Regions from separate parts of the Homo sapiens genome. Here region 1 is linked to region 2. Evidence: fine-mapped expression QTL. A gene starts in region 2. The other region holds a variant in brackets. All regions are shown on one strand. Distances are from middle to middle.

Region 1 (8,326 bases), 24 kb before region 2:
ATTACAGGCATGAGTCACCACACCTGATCGTTATAATGCTCTTTTTGATCTCTTCCAATGTTAACTGATTTTTCCTCAGTCCACTCCAGGGTGCCGGACTTGTCTTGTTTTAAAGAGTATATAAAGGTTGAATTTTTAGGGAGAAGTTTGGAACTCAATTCCTACAGTATCCTTCTGACCCAGAAATCCCTTTGGTTGTTTTTTAAGTTATGGGGGTAGGGAAAGCCAATATTTTTTTATACTGCCTGGATGGATGAAAAGACCTTCCTTTGATATTAAATGACCTAAGTATCTTATTTGTTTTTCTCTAAACTGAAATCTTTCTTTTGAGGTCTGTGTCCCTTTAAGCTCATTGTTGTAAAAAGTGCAGCCCATCATCTATAGAGGCTTTGCCTAGCCTCTGAGCAGAGGAGTAAATCATCTACATATTGTGAAAAGTGTGTTGGGATCTCAATGTATCCCTGGAGCAGGATGTCCATGTGTATTGTCTGTTTTCTCAAGTGAAAATGAAAACAAATTGACTGTCTTTATCCACAGAAGTACTAAAGAACACACTACATAAATCTATTACAGTAAAGAACGTGCCTTTGGTAAGAATGGCATCAACATGTATGGAGGTTTAGCACTCCTGGATAATGAGGAATGACTATGTTGTTAATTGTTCTCAGATCCTATACAAACTTCTATCCTCTACCATTTAGTTTCCTTACAGGAAGGATTGGAGTATTACATGTACCTCTTTTTATATAGCCTGGAACTACAGGTTTTATTCCTATTATAGCTTCTACTTTTAAAGGGTACTGGCCAGATGTGATGGCTCATGCCTGTGATCCTAATACTTTGGGAGGCCAAGGCAGGTGGATTGCATGAGCTCAGGAGTTTGAGACCAGCCTGGGCAACATGGCGAAACCCCATCTCTACAAAAAATACAAAAATTTAACTAGGCATGGTGTTGTGCACCTGGGGTCCCAGCTACTGAAGAAGCTGAAGTGGCAGGATTGCTTGAGCCCAGGAGGCAGAGGTTCCAGTGAGCACAGATCACATCACTGCACTCTAGCCTGGGTGACAGAGTGACACCCTGGCTCAAAAAAAGAACAGTTCACAGTTAAGTTACATAAACATCTGTTAAACTTAACAAAGTCACTCAATCCATATATGATGAATTTAAAATACTTTAAAAATAAATAAATAGAGGGTATTGCTTAAGGTTTGGAAGGTGTTTTGATGGATCTATTTGAACTTTGATTGGGGAAGCCAAGATGATTATTCCAATATCAGCAGAAGATTTTAACCACAATTGATCAGGTACTACCTTTAGCAGGTTTTGTAATTTTCATTACTCAATAATTCAGTGTCTACTATGGCAATATAGATTGCAATTAAATTAGATTTTGAAAAACTTTTTATGTCCAGTAACTCAGTTTTATCATCTAATTCTAAATACATTTTCCCTTTTTGGGAGAAAGAAGTGTATTATATAATTTTAAGTCTTTTTCTATAAGATGGATGGGAGCTGATTCAACCAAAAGGAAAACATAAGTCCCTTGTAAGTGACGTAGCTGAAAAGCTACAGGCTGAGATTTATAAACCAATACAGGAGTATTTGTGACACCCACCATTTGAATTTTTTGTTTACTCCAAGGAATGAATCTTGTAATAAGGTGAGATTTATTACAGATAATGTGGCTCCAGTGTCAACAAAAGCTTGTGTTCATACTCCATTTAAAATAATTATTTTTCCCAAAGTAGAGCCAGGGTCATAAGCACAAATATTTAATTTAAATTTCCTGAGAAAACCAATGTCCTGGTCCTGGTGAGAATCAGGAAATTCCTGAACTATGTCTTTAAGTTTTACCTTTGACCATGATTGAGAAACTAGGGTAGGTTCTCCCCTACCAGACACTGGCTGTTTGAGAAATGGAGCTGGAACAGTAGAAGCAGAAGGAGGAGGAGGTAGATCTGGGCAAGGTACTAAAGGATAAAGAGAAGGAGAAGATAATAAAGGATAATAAAGAATAAAGAGACAGAGGAGCTGAGGGAGGAGGATAAATTTCAGCAGTCTTTAATTCAGAATTTTTTAAGACAACTTTTTGTTCTCTTGTAAAGAAATAACTTTATTATAACCTCTTTAGAAGCTTCCAAGCCTCATTGAAAATAACTCTCCCAATTATTTTGTTTTATCTTATAGCTGACTTTTTCTCATTGAGCACACAATTAAATTAGTTTAGGCATTTCAAAGGTACTACATTTTGTCCATTGCAAATGTTAGGATTTTCTTGGGTCAAGTAAGACCATTTTTCCAAATATTGACAGGAGGTGGTGCCATAAGTATTGTACATAAATCCAGCTGGAGTTTCTAAAGATGGATTCTTTCTTAAAGAGGACTCAGTTTTAGATGGAAGATGGACCATAATTTGGATTTTCTTTTTAAGTGACCAAAGACTCAAAGAGAAAGATGTCTTATTTTTTAATTTTTAAATTTTATTTATATGTTTATTTTGAGATGAAGTCTCTCTCTGTCACCCAGGCTGGAGTACAGTTGCGCTATCTCAGCTCACTGCAACCTCCGCCTTCCAGGTTGAAATGATTCTCCTGCCTCAGCCTCCCAAGTAGCTGGGATTACAGGTGCCCACCACTATACCTTGCTAATTTTTGTATTTTTAGTAGAGGCAGGGTTTCACCACGATGGCCAGGCTAGTATCAAACTCCTCATGTTGGGCTCCTTCCCCCTCGGCATCCCAAAATGCTGGCATTACAGGCGTGAGCCACCGTGCCCAGCTGGGAAAGATGTTTTGGATCTGGTATTCTGCTTAACAGGGATTACTCCTCGAGGTGTCACCCATGAGTCACTTCTACTCTCTTATGTGTTTCAGTGAAACCCAGACATTTCTGGAGGCTTAGGGCCCTGGGATACCAACCCTTCATGTATGCCCAACAGGTTAATCAGATTTCCCTGTATGTTCTTCCTTGGGGTTTCCCTGTAGGACCCTTACACAGCAGAAGCTATGACCTCTGACAGTCCTGTGTGGCCTCAGTTACCTAAGGTGCCTTTCAGCTGGGAGGAACAGTGGCCGTTATTTAGGACTTTCTCAGGTCAAGTAAATCACATCCTCAGACAAAGCCTTTAATGAATTTTTGGTCACTCAGAAAGAAAATCTAAATGGCAATTTTAACCCAGCTCCAAAACCTGGTCAGTTTAAAACTGCACATTTAGCTTAAGCCACAAGCATTCACTTTCTCTTTTTAAAAAGAAACTGCTTTCTATTTAACCAATTTTTTTTGAGACAGAATCTCACTCTGTCACCCAGGCTGGACAGTGGAGTACAGTGTGTCAGCTCCCTGCAATCTCCACCTACTGGGTTCATGCAATTCTCGTACCTCAGCCTCCCAAGTAGCAGGGACCACAGACATGCACCATCACGTTCAGCTAATGCTTTGTATTTTTAGTAGAGATTGGGTTTCACCATGTTGGCCAAGCTGGTCTTCAACTCCTGGCCTCAAGTGATCCAACCGCCTCAGCCTCCCAAAGTGCTGGGATTACAGGTGTGAGCCACTGCACCCAGCCCCAAATTTTGAATGGGAGAAAAGTTGCAAACTTTAGCAAGCAAAACAGACAAAATCTTAACCTCAAAAGAAAGTGAAACTACAAACTTGCAAATAACAGAATCTCTAGAGAAATAACAATAAAGTGACTACCTCAAAGCCAAAAGTTGAGCTTCAGTTCTAGCTCTGTTGAGTGTGGAATTGGGTTGCTTGAATAAAGTCTGAATCTCAGCCAGAACTAGGAAGATATGAAACCTGAGAGAAGTCTTACCAGAGACCCCCGCCAGCTCTGATGAGGTCAGACGAGTAAAAGCCACTCATGCTGGTACTAAATCTCCGAATGCCAGCAAAGCAACGAGGATCGCACGAGGCTTGTTTCAGGTCCTATCTGCAGTTGCCAAAATGTCAACTTAAAATAATCAAAAGGATCAGAGTCTAATTTAAAGAGAGTTTATTCAAATACAAAGTTTGAGGATGGCCCACTCAGGAGCATCAACTGCGAAGAGATGGAGGCAGTGTTCTGAAGTAGAGAAATTAGGGTTTCATTTATAGATGCAGAGACAGAGATGTTTTTAGCAGGATTACAACATTTTTCATATGAAGTTGGCACATACTTCCAGCAATTTGATTGATGATAGGCAATGCATCCTTTTTGGAAAGGGTACATTTAGCATTTTGAATATAATGGGTGTAACAGTCATGGGTTTTCTGTCATCTGGTTTAGGCAAAGTAGGACAACAAAGGGGAAGTTAATCTATAACAAGAGTCATTAATTAAGAAGGCAGGAGGCTTTTGTCCCTGATATAATTTAATTCTCTCTAGTCATTGTACAGAACAAAAAAATAAGAAAACAAGTTAATCTATAATCTGAGAAACAGAAGTTGGAACCATATGTGACTAAGATCACATTCACATTTCTCTTAAGGTTTGAAGTGGGTTTTTTTGGGTTCCAACAGCTTTTAAATTATATTTATTTTCACACAAGAAAGCAGGAGGGATGGGACCAGAAACTGCCTTTCAGTGCTATTTCATTTTTAAAGAATGTGCTTGCATCAAGTAGATCACAAATTAAAACCACAACAAACCCAGAAACTCCCTTGTCCTGACAGGAGTTCTCATGCATCAATCTCATCATGTGGTGACTCGCCCCTGTCCCCTGCTGG[G/A]GACACAGAGTCCTTGGCGGGGGCGCATGTCTCTTCACACTCGTGTGAAATCGTAGGCTTCTGGTCCTTGGGGAGAAGCTGTGAAGTTTTTGCTACCAGAACTAGGATTCTAGGAGGCTTTTAGATGACCAGGAAGAGGCTGAGACTCCTGGTGGGGACTCCTGCTGGGAAGTTTCTGGACCACAGCCCTCTTGGTATGAAGAGAGCAGAGGACAGGACCAGGCTAGAGCATCTGCACTCTGGAGCTGGAAATGGGGCCCAGCTCTGGGCCTCCACTCTCAGTGTCAAATGTAGGGGCAGCCCCAAGCATTGGAAGTCGCCCTGCACCCTGGCAGCTGCTTCTTGGGCTCTGTCTCCCATGCCGTGCTCTCTGCCCCAACCTCCTAGGAAGGCCCAGCAGCTTCCCACCAGGCCTTCAGCAAAGACTGCTCCTGTCCCTCCAGTGAAACACTGCCCCAAAAGTCACTTGCCCACTCAGGCTGTGCCGTGGGGGCAGCTGCCACACTCTGGGGTTCCTTGGTCTCCCAAGGAGTCCCCACCCTCACAGAGTGTTGGTCAGCTCTTCTGGCTCTGAGGAATTGCAGTTTACCTAAGGAAATGGGAAGGCCAGAGTTGCAGCCAGGTGCCGGGGCTTAGGGGTCTGGATGGACAGGTGAGGCCTCAAGGACCAGGTAGTTCTTTCAGACTCAGGCTGGCTTGGGGGACCCAGGCAGAGTGAACAACCAGGCCTGCAGGGGGCCAGGGACTTGGTGCAGGGCAGAGCCTAGGAAGGAGCAGCTCATAAAACCCCCAGGCAGTTCCTGGGGAGAGCCAGAGGACTCTATCCCCACCGTTGCTGCCCTAATCATGGCTTTGAACACCCCTCATCTCATTGCTCATAGCTCTTAACTTTTTCTGTGCCAGGAACCCCTTTGGAGTCCTGTGCAGCCTATAGAGTCCTTTTTAGAGGTGCTCTTATTTTATTATATTTTTAAATCTTTTTATTGAGACAAGGTCTTGCTCTGTCACCCAGGCTAGGTTGCATTGGTGCATTGGCATGATCACGACTCACTGCAGCCTCAACCTCTCAGGCTTGAGCAATCCTCCCATCTCAGCCTCCCAAGTAGCTGAGACCACAGGCATGTGCCACTATACCCAGATAATTTTCTGTAGAGATGGGGTCTCACTATGTTGCCCAGGCTGGTCTCGAACTCCTGGCCTCAAGTAATCTTCTCACCTCAGCTTCTCAAAGTGCTGGAATTGCAGGCATGTGCCACTGCACCCAACCCCAGAAGTGCTCTTTTTTTTTTTTTTTTTTTGAACTAGAGTTTTGCTCTGTTGCCCAGGCTGGGGGCAATGGCGCAATCTCGGCTCACTGCAACCTCTGCCTCCCAGGTTCCAGCAATTCTCCTGCCTCAGCCTCCCTGGTAGCTGGGATTACAAGCATGCGCCACCACACCTGCCTTAATTTTTGTATTTTTAGTAGAGACAGGGTTTCACCATGTTGGCTAGGCTGGTCTTGAACTCCTGACCTCAGGTGATCTGCCCACCTTGGCCTCCCAAGGTGCTGGGATTACAAGAGTGAGCCTCCGCGCTGGGCCTAGGAGTGCTTTTAATGCGTAAGATAAAATACATAGGATTGTAAAGTAAGCCAGTGACATTAAACTGTTGTTACCAAAATATTAAACAATAAATTTGTAATCAGGTAAACTATGTGCTTCTTCATTTAATGAACCAACCACAGAATCTGGCGGCAGGTCTACGCAGGATTGTGATTTTGATGTAGTGATGAACAAAACCAATATTGCAAGTTATCTGCAGCAACTCTGCTGTCATATAGAAGGAGTGATGATTCCCAATGGTCACAAAGCCCCAGGAAGACTACTGTGGGGGTTTTGCCCTTGTTCATAATGGAGGGAAAACCTACATTTCAGCTAGAGGTTACTGCCCTGAATTCTACCCACAGACCCCAGGCCTCCTGGCCCCTCCTATCTCATAGCTTCAGCTCTTATGCCTGTCTGCCCTCGGCACCAGGTGCCTGGATCCTTCATCACCACTGCTTCCCCACACTCTTCAGAGGCTTAGGTCCTGGCAGAGGCCTGAATCCAGCTTGGGCCCCCACCCTGCAGGTCGTAGAAGAGGGGAGAGTTTGCTCCCTGGCCCAGCCACAAAATAACAACAACATCCAGAGCAGAGATGGAGCTAGGAGCCGGGGGAGCTGGAGCGAATGAGGCGGAGGAATGGGAAACACATGTGGATCCATGTAGGTATGTGGCTGAGGCTGGCTATGGCTTTGTGTTACACTGCATTTTTAAAAAATCCCAGTGTTTAGGCTATATCCCAGGCCAACTAAATCGGAGTCTCTGGGGGTGGGCTATCATTAATAATCCAGGCGGCATAACTTTTTTAATTCCCAGGTAATCATCTGGGGGGTGTGCTGTGCAAACATGGAAGCCCCATGGGCACCAGGATGTTGCCTGTCCTGCCTCAGCAGCCCCTGTAAGATTGGAGCCTGGATTCTGGGTGAGGCATAAGCTGAGTACTCTGCATGCCTTCTTATGAAGCCACTCGGAAGCCCTGAGAGGCAGGTATTAGTATCTCCATTCTACGGGTGAGGAAACTGAATCTTGGAGCTGTGTGGTTCCTTGTCACTTCCCAGTTCCCTGTAGCAAATATTGGCAAGGCTGGGATGCCCACCGAGGTTGACCTGATCGTGTTGGGCCTGATGGGAGATGGAATTTACACTGTTTTTACAGCTTGGGGAGTTTGCTTGCAGTGCTGACATGTCTACAGTCACAAATTCGAATGCAGAGTTTTCTTTTTTTCTTTTTTTTTTTTTTTTTGAGACAGAGTCTCACTCTGTCGCCCAGGCTGGAGTGCAGTGACTTGATCTTGGCTCACTGCAACCTCTGCCTCCTGGGTTCAAGCAATTCTCTGGCCTCAGCCTCCCAAGTAGCTAGGACTAGAGGTGCCACCACCATGCCCGGCTAATTTTTGTATTTTTAGTAGAGACAGGGTTTTGCCATGTTGGCAAGGCTGGTCTCAAATTCCTGACCTCAGGCAATCCACTCACCTCAGCCTCCCAAAGTGTTGGGATTACAGGCGTGAGCCACCGCATCTGGCCCAAATGCAGGGTTTTCATTCAGACTCTTGTGGTGCCACTCATGCACTGCTGAGATCAGCGAGGGGTTGTGGGGCAGTCACAGAACAGACCCAGAGACACATCTCTATGCCTGAATGGGTCTTCACTAAGAACATCTCTGATGTTTCCTGTAGATTTCCATCCTGCTTCATTTGTCTTTTACACTTCTCCTCTCTGCGAGGTCAGAAATTGCCTTGGGCTATCGTAAATCAAAGTGGGTGACTCTATCCCTCAGACAAATGCCCCACTTTGTAGGGAATGACTCAGACACTTGATTATGATCAGCTATAATATTTTGAGAAAGAAAAGTGCGGTTCCAACAAGTTACCAAAAGGGCAGGAAAGTATATAATCCATGGGTCTCTGTGCCTCTCTCTGTGTACCCCAAATTAGAGGGCTCTGTGTGCAAACAAGGACATGTCAAAGGTGCTAAGGAAAGAATTTCTTTTTAAAAATCCAGTAGCAAGCTCTCGATTTCTGCTGGGTGTGCCCAAAGCATG
Region 2 (8,326 bases):
ATACACACACCCTAGGACAGGCATGCACAATTTACGGGGTTTATTTGGTGACCGGCAACGGTGCAAATGGTGTCAGGGGCCTCCCGCAATGAATACCTGTTGGGAGGATGAAGGAGGGCCTGGTGGGGTAAGGGCAGGAGCAAAGCTACGGACTGTCCCTCTCACCTCACAGTCACTCTCTCACCTCCCTCAGGGCTGGACACACATGGAGGCAGCAGCTGTGTGGGGAGCTGCCCAGCAAGCAAATGGGCGGTCCCTCTACGGTCAGGGTCTGGAGGACTTGGAAGCCAAGGCACCCCCCAGACCCCAGGGACACGAAGCAGAGACTCCAGGGAAGGTGACTGGGCCCGGTACCTGCCAATCCACAAAGGGGTGGGGGTTAGGGGCCAGTAGCCCAGGGAGAGGCCAGGAAAGAGAGACTTGTTCTCATGGGCAGGGGCGATATCCTCCAGGAATCACCTGCTCCCAGCACCTCCCAGCTTTTCCTTGTCTGCCTGGGGTTCTCTGTGACTCTGAGATGCTCTGAGCAGGGCCTGCATATGGTCTGCACATGTGTGTGTGTGTGTGTGATCATGCAACTCTGACTCTGCATGGTGCTGTTGGCTGTGCTGTGGCATGATAAGAGTACATGTGTGTGTTGATGAGGGTAGGAGGTCTGCAGCCGTCAGAGCATAGCTCGAGCATGTGTGTGGCCATGTGCCCAGCACATGCTCCATCACTGTAGCACCTGGCACATGCTCTGTCACTGTAACACCCAGTGACACGTGACTAAGCATGCCCTAATGTGTCTGCTTTAAGCTGTGCATGTGACTGAGTGTGGGTGGTATGTACCTCTCTGTGTGACTGCGAGGTTGGACATACCTGGGGAGGAAGGGGCTGTAAGCTGTGGATGTGCTCACCATAAATGCCCTAAGATCAGGATGTCACCCGGAATACTTGTGGCTATTAAAAGAAGGCCAGCTGTCGGCCCAAGTGCCTATGGAACGGAATGTTGATGGCGATTAGAGAAGGCCATATTCTGGAACACTGGAAATGTCGTGTGCACAGGCTCCCAAGCAGCCCTTCGCCCCAGCTGACAGCTCCCCATCTGCCCCTCCTGTCACACCCACACAACACCCTCAGCTCAGCTCCTGGGCTCTCTCCAGCTTCCCTAGCTAGTCCAAGGCCAAAGGCACATTCCTGCCTGCCTTTCTTCCTGAGTGCTGTGCCCCTGTGCATCCAAGAACGAAAGCCCTGGGCTGTACCTGCAGTCGGGGAGCCTCAGCCTCCCTCAGCATTCCCCCCGGGGGCCCCGCACCCTGTCCTGGAGCCCAGGCACTGTGCATGCCATAAACGCCAGGACAAAGGCCTGGCAGTGACCCCCAGGCTGGCCAGGCACTGATGAAAGACACAGTGCCTGTCTTGGAGGGATAGGCTCAGGGGGGTTGCTGGGCAGCCATCAACAATCACCAAACACATGTGATAAGCGCTGCCATTGAGGTGTGAGCACGCAGGGTACTGAAAGCAGAGGCAAGTCCCTGAGGTTCCCCAGGAAGATAGAGGTGAAGCAGGGATCTGCAGGCAGCAGGGGTGGGGAGTGGGGGGAGCACTGAGCTGTCCAGGATGAGGATACAGCCTGTGTGACTGTGCAAACACAGGGGCACAGGGGAGGGAGCTCAATATGTCCTGGAACAGGATGTCTCTCTGTGACCCTGGGAGCAGCCAGAGGGACCCTGGGGATTGGCAGTGGGGGACATAGGAGAAGGGAAGAGGAGGCGGAGGTGGTAGGAGCAGTGGGAAGGCCCCATCAGGGACTGGCTTAGGTGTCTCCAGACCTGACCTGGGGACAGGAAGCCCTGGGAGGGGGTTGGTTAGCTTTGCAGGGTGAAGACCAAAGAAGGAAGTGCTGCAGGGCAGGAAAGGGATGACCCATTTAAGGACAGCAGGAGCGGGGGTGATGCCAGAGTCTCCACATGTGGAAGAGAGGAGCGGATTGGATGGTGGGGGTGAGGATGGGTTCAGTTGTGACCCCGGGAGTCAAGAGCCCGGGGAGCATCCCAGGAGATGCTCTGTAGGCAGCGTTAGGCGTTACCAGCTCTTACTCTGGGATGTGGACTCTGGGAAGGCCCATCCCTGACCCAGGACACAACCTGGCCCTTCCATGCAACCTCCCCCACTGCTCGGTGACCCAGTGTGTGGAGGGTCATCGGGAGACTGCCCCCAGTGAACTGCTCCTCAGCTAAACAGATGTGTGCTGTTTGTTTGCAGACCAAGGGGCTGATCCCCAGCCAGGACCCCAGGATGTAGGACGCCCACTGGCTCTCCCTTTCTTCTGAGACACATCCAGCCCCCCCACGTCTCCCTCATATACACAGACCCAGGATTATGCTGTGAGCCTGCAGGCTTTGGAAGTGGCCCTGTCACCCGTGCTGCACGGGATTCACAGCCCCAGCCCCATGGCCCCTCTCCACACCTCAAAACTCCTGCCCCATAACGTCCTCCGCATCCACTTTCCAGCTCAGCAGCCGCACCCGAGGCTCAGCCTGAGGGGTATGTGCCCAGGCCCTCCCACTTCCCGAGTTGTCTGCCTCTCCTCAAATGCTGTGTGCTGCAATTGTCCAGGCGATGACAATGGTGATGGCTCCAGAGAACACACCAGCTATTTATGAGCCTCTGCCCCCAGGCTGGGCCTGTCACTGGCATAGGAAGGCCAGCCCCGCATCTCCCACTGCCAACAGCTGAAGCCGAGCACAGACCTCCCTTTGCACGCTGGAACAGTTACTCACCTGTGGCTTCTTCCCCCAGTGTACCGTTCCACTGTGGCCCACATTCTTGTGCACGCGGGCATTTGCAGGCACGCTCTCGCGTAGTTACCTATCTGAATGCACACCAAGCACATGCGTGCACACTCTGCGTCTGTGATTCATTTCATGTAGTGGTCTAAGCTCCTCCCAGGGCTGTGTGGATCTGACAGGGTATAGGAAAATAAAAAGCGGAGAAGGTGTCTTCAGACAAATATGGTCTCTACGTGTTGGTGCTGCTATGGGAGAGAGAACCAGGGCCTGGCCTCTGATGCCTCCAGCAACTTCACTTCCTCTCCTTCCTCTGTCCCCACTCTTGGGACTCTCACTCTGAGGCCCACCTCAAACTGCAAGGAGTACAGCAGAGAAGGGACAAAGGCCAGGCTGGCCTCCATCCCCACTCACTCCCCAGTGAGCCATTGAACTCCGCCCAGACCATGGGTACCAGCTGCTCTCTGACTGGCTTCACATCTCCCGAGGGAGGCGGATGGAGGGAGGCCGGCCTTCGCCTTTAAGAGCACTCTCCTGCCACCCCTCCCTTTCCCCAGAGGCGAGCTTCATCAGGCAGGAGCCAGAGGCCAGAGAGACAGCGTGCAGCTCCAGGTACAGCCTCCCCCAGCTCCCTGGCCCTGAGGGTGGGTGCCTTCCTTCTCCCACACTGGTTATGCCCTGCTGCTGAGTCCTCCCCAGCCTGGCAGGATGGACAAACACCCCTAGGAAAGGGCATAAGGCTGGAGTTAGGGATGAATGACATGGGGCTTTGCAGAGAGGGATAGGGAATGGTATGGGGAAGGGATGCTGGCCATGGACTGCTGGCCTCCTGGGCTGGGCTGCATGATATAGGGTGAAGGAAGTGATTAAGCAGGGAAAAGGACACAGGTCTTTTCCTGACTTCTTCCACTTGATAGTTTTGTGACTTTGGGCAAGTGACAAAACAACCCCGTAATATGGGTGATCCTACCTTGTACCTTGCATGTGCCAGGCCCCAGGAGTGAGGCTAGAAGCTGAGAAATGACTCACACCCAGGCCTCTACTGACTCCTCAGGGTCCAAGCCAGACCCCTCCAAGAGGGCCAGCAAGCAGCCAACCCAGTTGCCTCCCCTGAGCCTCAGTTTCTCCAACCAAGGAGCCAGGGTGGGCCTTGATCTATCTCCAGACCACATAGGGGCCTGAGGTCTTTCTTGGGGAAGGGGTTGGCCCAAAGACCGCACTGGCAGAAGTCCCAAGGTGCTGAGGCCCCCATCCAGAACACACTGTCTCTGGGGTACAGGCTGAACATGCCACACGTGCTTCCCCCTCCCTGCCCCTCCTGGCCCTGTGTCTAGCAGCTGAGCAAATGGCGTCTCCTCCCTTCTCCCTGCCCCCTGCCATTCCTGCGCAAAGGGCACGGGGCCTGGCGTGTGGCACTGGCAGCTGGAGCTTTCCATGCTGCCGTCAAGTTTTCCAGAGCACAAAGACAGGAGAGCCAGGAATAACTGGCTGGGCCCCCAGAGGGTCTGGAGGGGATGGGCCTGCCTCAGACCTGCTTTCAGACCCTATGCCAAGGGGTGCAGGCAGAGGGCCAGCTGCCCAGGACCAGGGCTTTGGGAGGCTTCTGTGGCTACTGGGAGCCCATTATCTGGCATGCATTCTGTAGGAATCAGCCCAGGCTCCAGTGTGACCTGGGTCCACTCCTTGTGTGACCTTGGAGAAGTCATTTAACCTCCCTGAGCTTTGTCTCCTGCGGGCCCAGGTGGCAGCTTCTCAGGATCCCAGGGAGTGAAGGGCCCATACTGAGGTTGGCTATGCCCAGAGCTGCTGTTATGATGATCGTTTTTATGGCTGGACAACCCTGGGCCAGTCACAGACCAGCTGGAGGCTCAGCTCAAGCCAAGGCACCTCCAGGGCCCCATACTGGATAAAGCACAACCCCAGAATCCTGGCCAGGGACCACACGGCAGCAAAGCCCCTACCCAAGGGAGCTCAGCCCCTGGTCTTCTGAGCAAGAGGATGGGTACCACTGGGCAGGAAGAGCGAGTGTCTACGCTCTCCAGAGGACACAGGAGCAAGGAGACCAGAGCATTCTCACCAACCAGGCCAGTTCCCCTTCCTCCCCCCTGGGGGGTGCTGGGTGCCGGACACCCCTCCCCAGGGGCTATATTAGCCGTGTGAGTCATGGTGGACCGGCTGGGAGGCGGCAGGCTGGCAGGCACAGTGTAGGGTTACAGTCCATTTATGGGCGCAGCCGAAGGCAGATATCAGTGTCGATGGCATTCGCTCCCAGCTATTCTTAGGAGCCTCTCAAGAGCTCCACGCAGCCCGGCTGGGCAGCAAGGGACAGAACAGGCAAGGCTGGGGGTCAGGGGCAGGGGCAGAGGTGTGGACCGGGCAGGCGGAGTGCCTGAGTGCCCTCTCACTCAACCCTCTCTACCCTTTGTCTGCAGAGGCGGCCGCTGACAGCACCAGCATGTCTTACAGTGTGACCCTGACTGGGCCCGGGCCCTGGGGCTTCCGTCTGCAGGGGGGCAAGGACTTCAACATGCCCCTCACTATCTCCCGGGTGAGTGCACCCTGCCACAGCCTGGCACCCGATGGGGCAGGCACGCTTGGAGGAGGGCATGTGTGTCCGTCTGTCTGTCTGTCCTTTCTGAGCCTCTCAGAAAGCAGAGCATGCCCCATCCCCTGGGACTGGCCTGGTCCTCTGGTCTCAGCCACAGCTGTTTGCTCACTGGAGCGCGCCGGCCTGTTATGCATGTGAGACATCATGAGCAGGTGGTAGGTGTTTTTAGCAGAGAAGAAAATGCTGAGTTTTCAGGCAGGCAGGCAGGCAGGCAGGCAGGTAGCTGGACAGAGAGTACAGCACCTTCCTGATCCCTTTACTGTTAGAGTGGGCTCAGGGTGCCCCCAAGCCTTGAGCATTTCCCTAGATATGGGCAGCTGCTTTGGGAAGGGAGTATTCCCAGCATGGAGAGGGCAGGTGATGGGCAGTTGGATAGATGGACAGACAGACGGTTGACCTTGGCTGCCCAGCTGTCAGAGTGTGGGGCTGGGCTGGACTGAGTACTGGGCACCTGCTCCATCCCAAACTTGAGACACCAAGACCCTGGCTCATGGGGCTGGGCGCTTCTCCCCATTCACCATGGCTGCTTTGTCTGTCTCAGGTCTTGTTCCCCACAAGTGCTGGGGCCTGGTGAGATGGCCCCCTATCCTGCAGTGTCTGTGATGGGGAGCAGCATGGCCTGATGCAGATGACACAGAACATCAGGGGTTGTCTGAGTAACTCTACCGCCTGGCTGGAGACAGCAACACCAGAGAGGCAGAAAGTTAGCCATGCTCCTGAGGAAGCACTCCAGGAGCAGGGACTGATGGGGGAACAGCCCCCAGACCGTAGTAGGCACTCCGTCAGTTTCTGTCAAACAAAGAGACTCCCCAGCAAGGCACTGGTAGACCCAGGGCTGAAGGCCCCAAGGCTCAGGGCGAACTGTGAGGCATACAGGGCAAGGACAACCCTGCCTGGTGGCTGAGCCCCTGACCGTGCTGTTCCGGGCACAAGGCCAGAGGGGGAGGCCCCCAGTCTGTCACTGGAGGGTGGTAGGTAGGCAGGGGTATCTGGGCTACTGCCCACCAGGGGAACAAGGGGACAGTTTCTTCTCTGGGGCCTTAAGGACTTGCCTTGGGCCTGGGGGCTGGAGGAAGGGGTTGGAGGGGAAGCACTGAAGTGGGCAAGGCCTGAAGGGGCTTGGCAGAGGGGCCAGGGAACCTGGGCAGCGGGTCAGGAGCCAATGCCCCCAGTGGAGGAGTAATCTTTTTTTTGTTCCACGGGTACTTGAGGGGACCCCAGAAGTAGAAGCCCCACCCAGGGATGCCGTGAGAGCCTTATAATAGCCATAGAGGCCACATGCTTACAGGAGGGGTGCTGGCCTGGCTCTGGTGCAGGGAACAGGCCCTGACCTCCATCCTTCAGTTGCAGATGTGGCTTGTTCTAACCTGGAGATTCCACCCCTCCAGATCTACTGCCCTGGAGACCACAGGGTCCTGGGCACCCACAGCCTTGCACACTTTGCATGAGGTGGTGACCTGTGAGCATGTGAGCCCCAGTGGATTTCCCACTGCCCTTTCCCACAGCTCCCCACCCCCATGCTTGCAGGACTCCTTCCTGTATAAGGTGGAGCCTCTGTGTGCTCTCTCATGGGCCCTGTGGCCTCCCCTGCCTGGGACTGAGCCCACATCTCCCCCAGCTCCACCATCTCGAGGCCTCCTGCTGGTGCTCCCTGCCCTATCCCTATGGGTGCAAATTGGCCACTGGGCTCAGTGGCACTCAGGATAGCCAATGACCTCACCCAGGGTCTATGTGCCACCTGGCCCCGGCCAGCCAGGGGCTTAAATGGCAGCCCAGAAGCCTTAAGCTAGATAGCAGGAGGAATGTCCTTACTCTGGGGAGGGGGTATGCAGGGATGTGCTGGATCCAATGACTGTGGGGACTTCTAAAAATAGAACCCGAAGCTCGGGCAGGGCACCGGGGGATGGGCATGATATGGCCTCTCGGCTTCCTTTAGGGGCATACCCCAAATCACCTAAGCCGCGGAGCAGGCTGGACTGGGTACTGGAGCCTTCCCCAGGGCTCGGAGCCTCTTGAGAAATTTTGGTGGTAGGCTGCTGATAGCCTGGGCTTGTGTCCTGGTTCAGTGCCGCTGGCAGGGCAGGCCTTGTGGACACAGCCCTGCCATCCCACCAGGGCTGTAGGATTTACTGCCGGGGCTCGCAGGGCCCTTCTGCACCAGGGACATCCCCCTACGGGGGAGGCATGGCCAGAGCTCTCTGGAGGAACCCCACTCCCACCCCAGCCAGGACCTGAGCCTGTGCCATAGGGCACCAGAGGCAAGAGTGTGTGACCCTGTGGGGTGGGCAGGCAGGCGAGGCTGGGATCGTTACCTCGCTTCAGAGCCTGGCAAACTGAGGCTCGAGTCTGCTCACAGGACAGGGATGTCCATGGGTGGATCTCCTGTATCCTGTCACCCCTAACTCCCATGCTGGCTTGCTCACCCCTCTAACTGGGACTAATAGAGAGGCACTGGGGAGGGTCTGTCCCCTCTCAGCTGCAGGTGTGTGCTGCAGCTCCTCCTGGAAGGACACAGGCCACCTGCAGGCTGGGTGGTGGCTCCCGGGGGCTCATGGCAGCAACTTTGGGGCAGCAGCAGCCCCTCAAGGCATCCCTTCATAGGGTCTCTGCTTGCAGACCCACAGAGAAGGGAGTTCAAGAGGGAGACTGGGAAAGGAGGGTGGCGGGGAAATGCCTTTATTTATCCTGGACAGGTGTGGCTGGGCCTGCAACATGAGCTGCCCTTTCACCCCACCCCAGCCAGTTCTCCAGGAAGTGGAGAAGGGGGAGCAGCCCAGAGAGGGAGCAGCTCCAAAGGCCTCTGCCCTGGCAGCTGGCCAGAGGCTGGGGCTGTGGTCTGGGGTCTCACCTCTTCATGCCTCTCATGCCTCCGCCTTGGGGAAGAGGAGTATGCTTTGTTAGGCTCTGCTGCTCTCAGCTGTGTCACCTCAGAAGTCTGTTTACCTGC

The links. PIP is the estimated chance that this variant, and not a neighbour inherited with it, causes the effect.
Region 1: its variant is fine-mapped to the expression of LDB3 in breast (GTEx, PIP above 0.99).

What each region holds. Positions count from the first base shown.
Region 1 is chr10:86,639,900-86,648,225 of GRCh38, forward strand. No RefSeq gene overlaps it. Among named protein-coding and RNA genes, the nearest start is that of OPN4, 10 kb to the right of the region's middle. RefSeq lists enhancers at 3,315-3,554, 5,726-5,895. The variant G/A (reference allele first, on the strand shown) is at 4,707.
Region 2 is chr10:86,663,466-86,671,791 of GRCh38, forward strand. LDB3 (LIM domain binding 3) reads left to right here and starts at 5,046. Exons shown (of 14, transcript NM_007078.3): 1 at 5,046-5,105; 2 at 5,204-5,319. The coding sequence starts at 5,227. OPN4 (opsin 4) reads left to right here. Exons shown (of 10, transcript NM_033282.4): 9 at 194-337; 10 at 2,248-2,995. The coding sequence ends at 2,286. It overlaps LOC105378409 (a long non-coding RNA gene), which reads right to left and starts at 3,084. Exons shown (of 3, transcript XR_001747526.2): 1 at 2,766-3,084. RefSeq lists an enhancer at 5,177-5,226.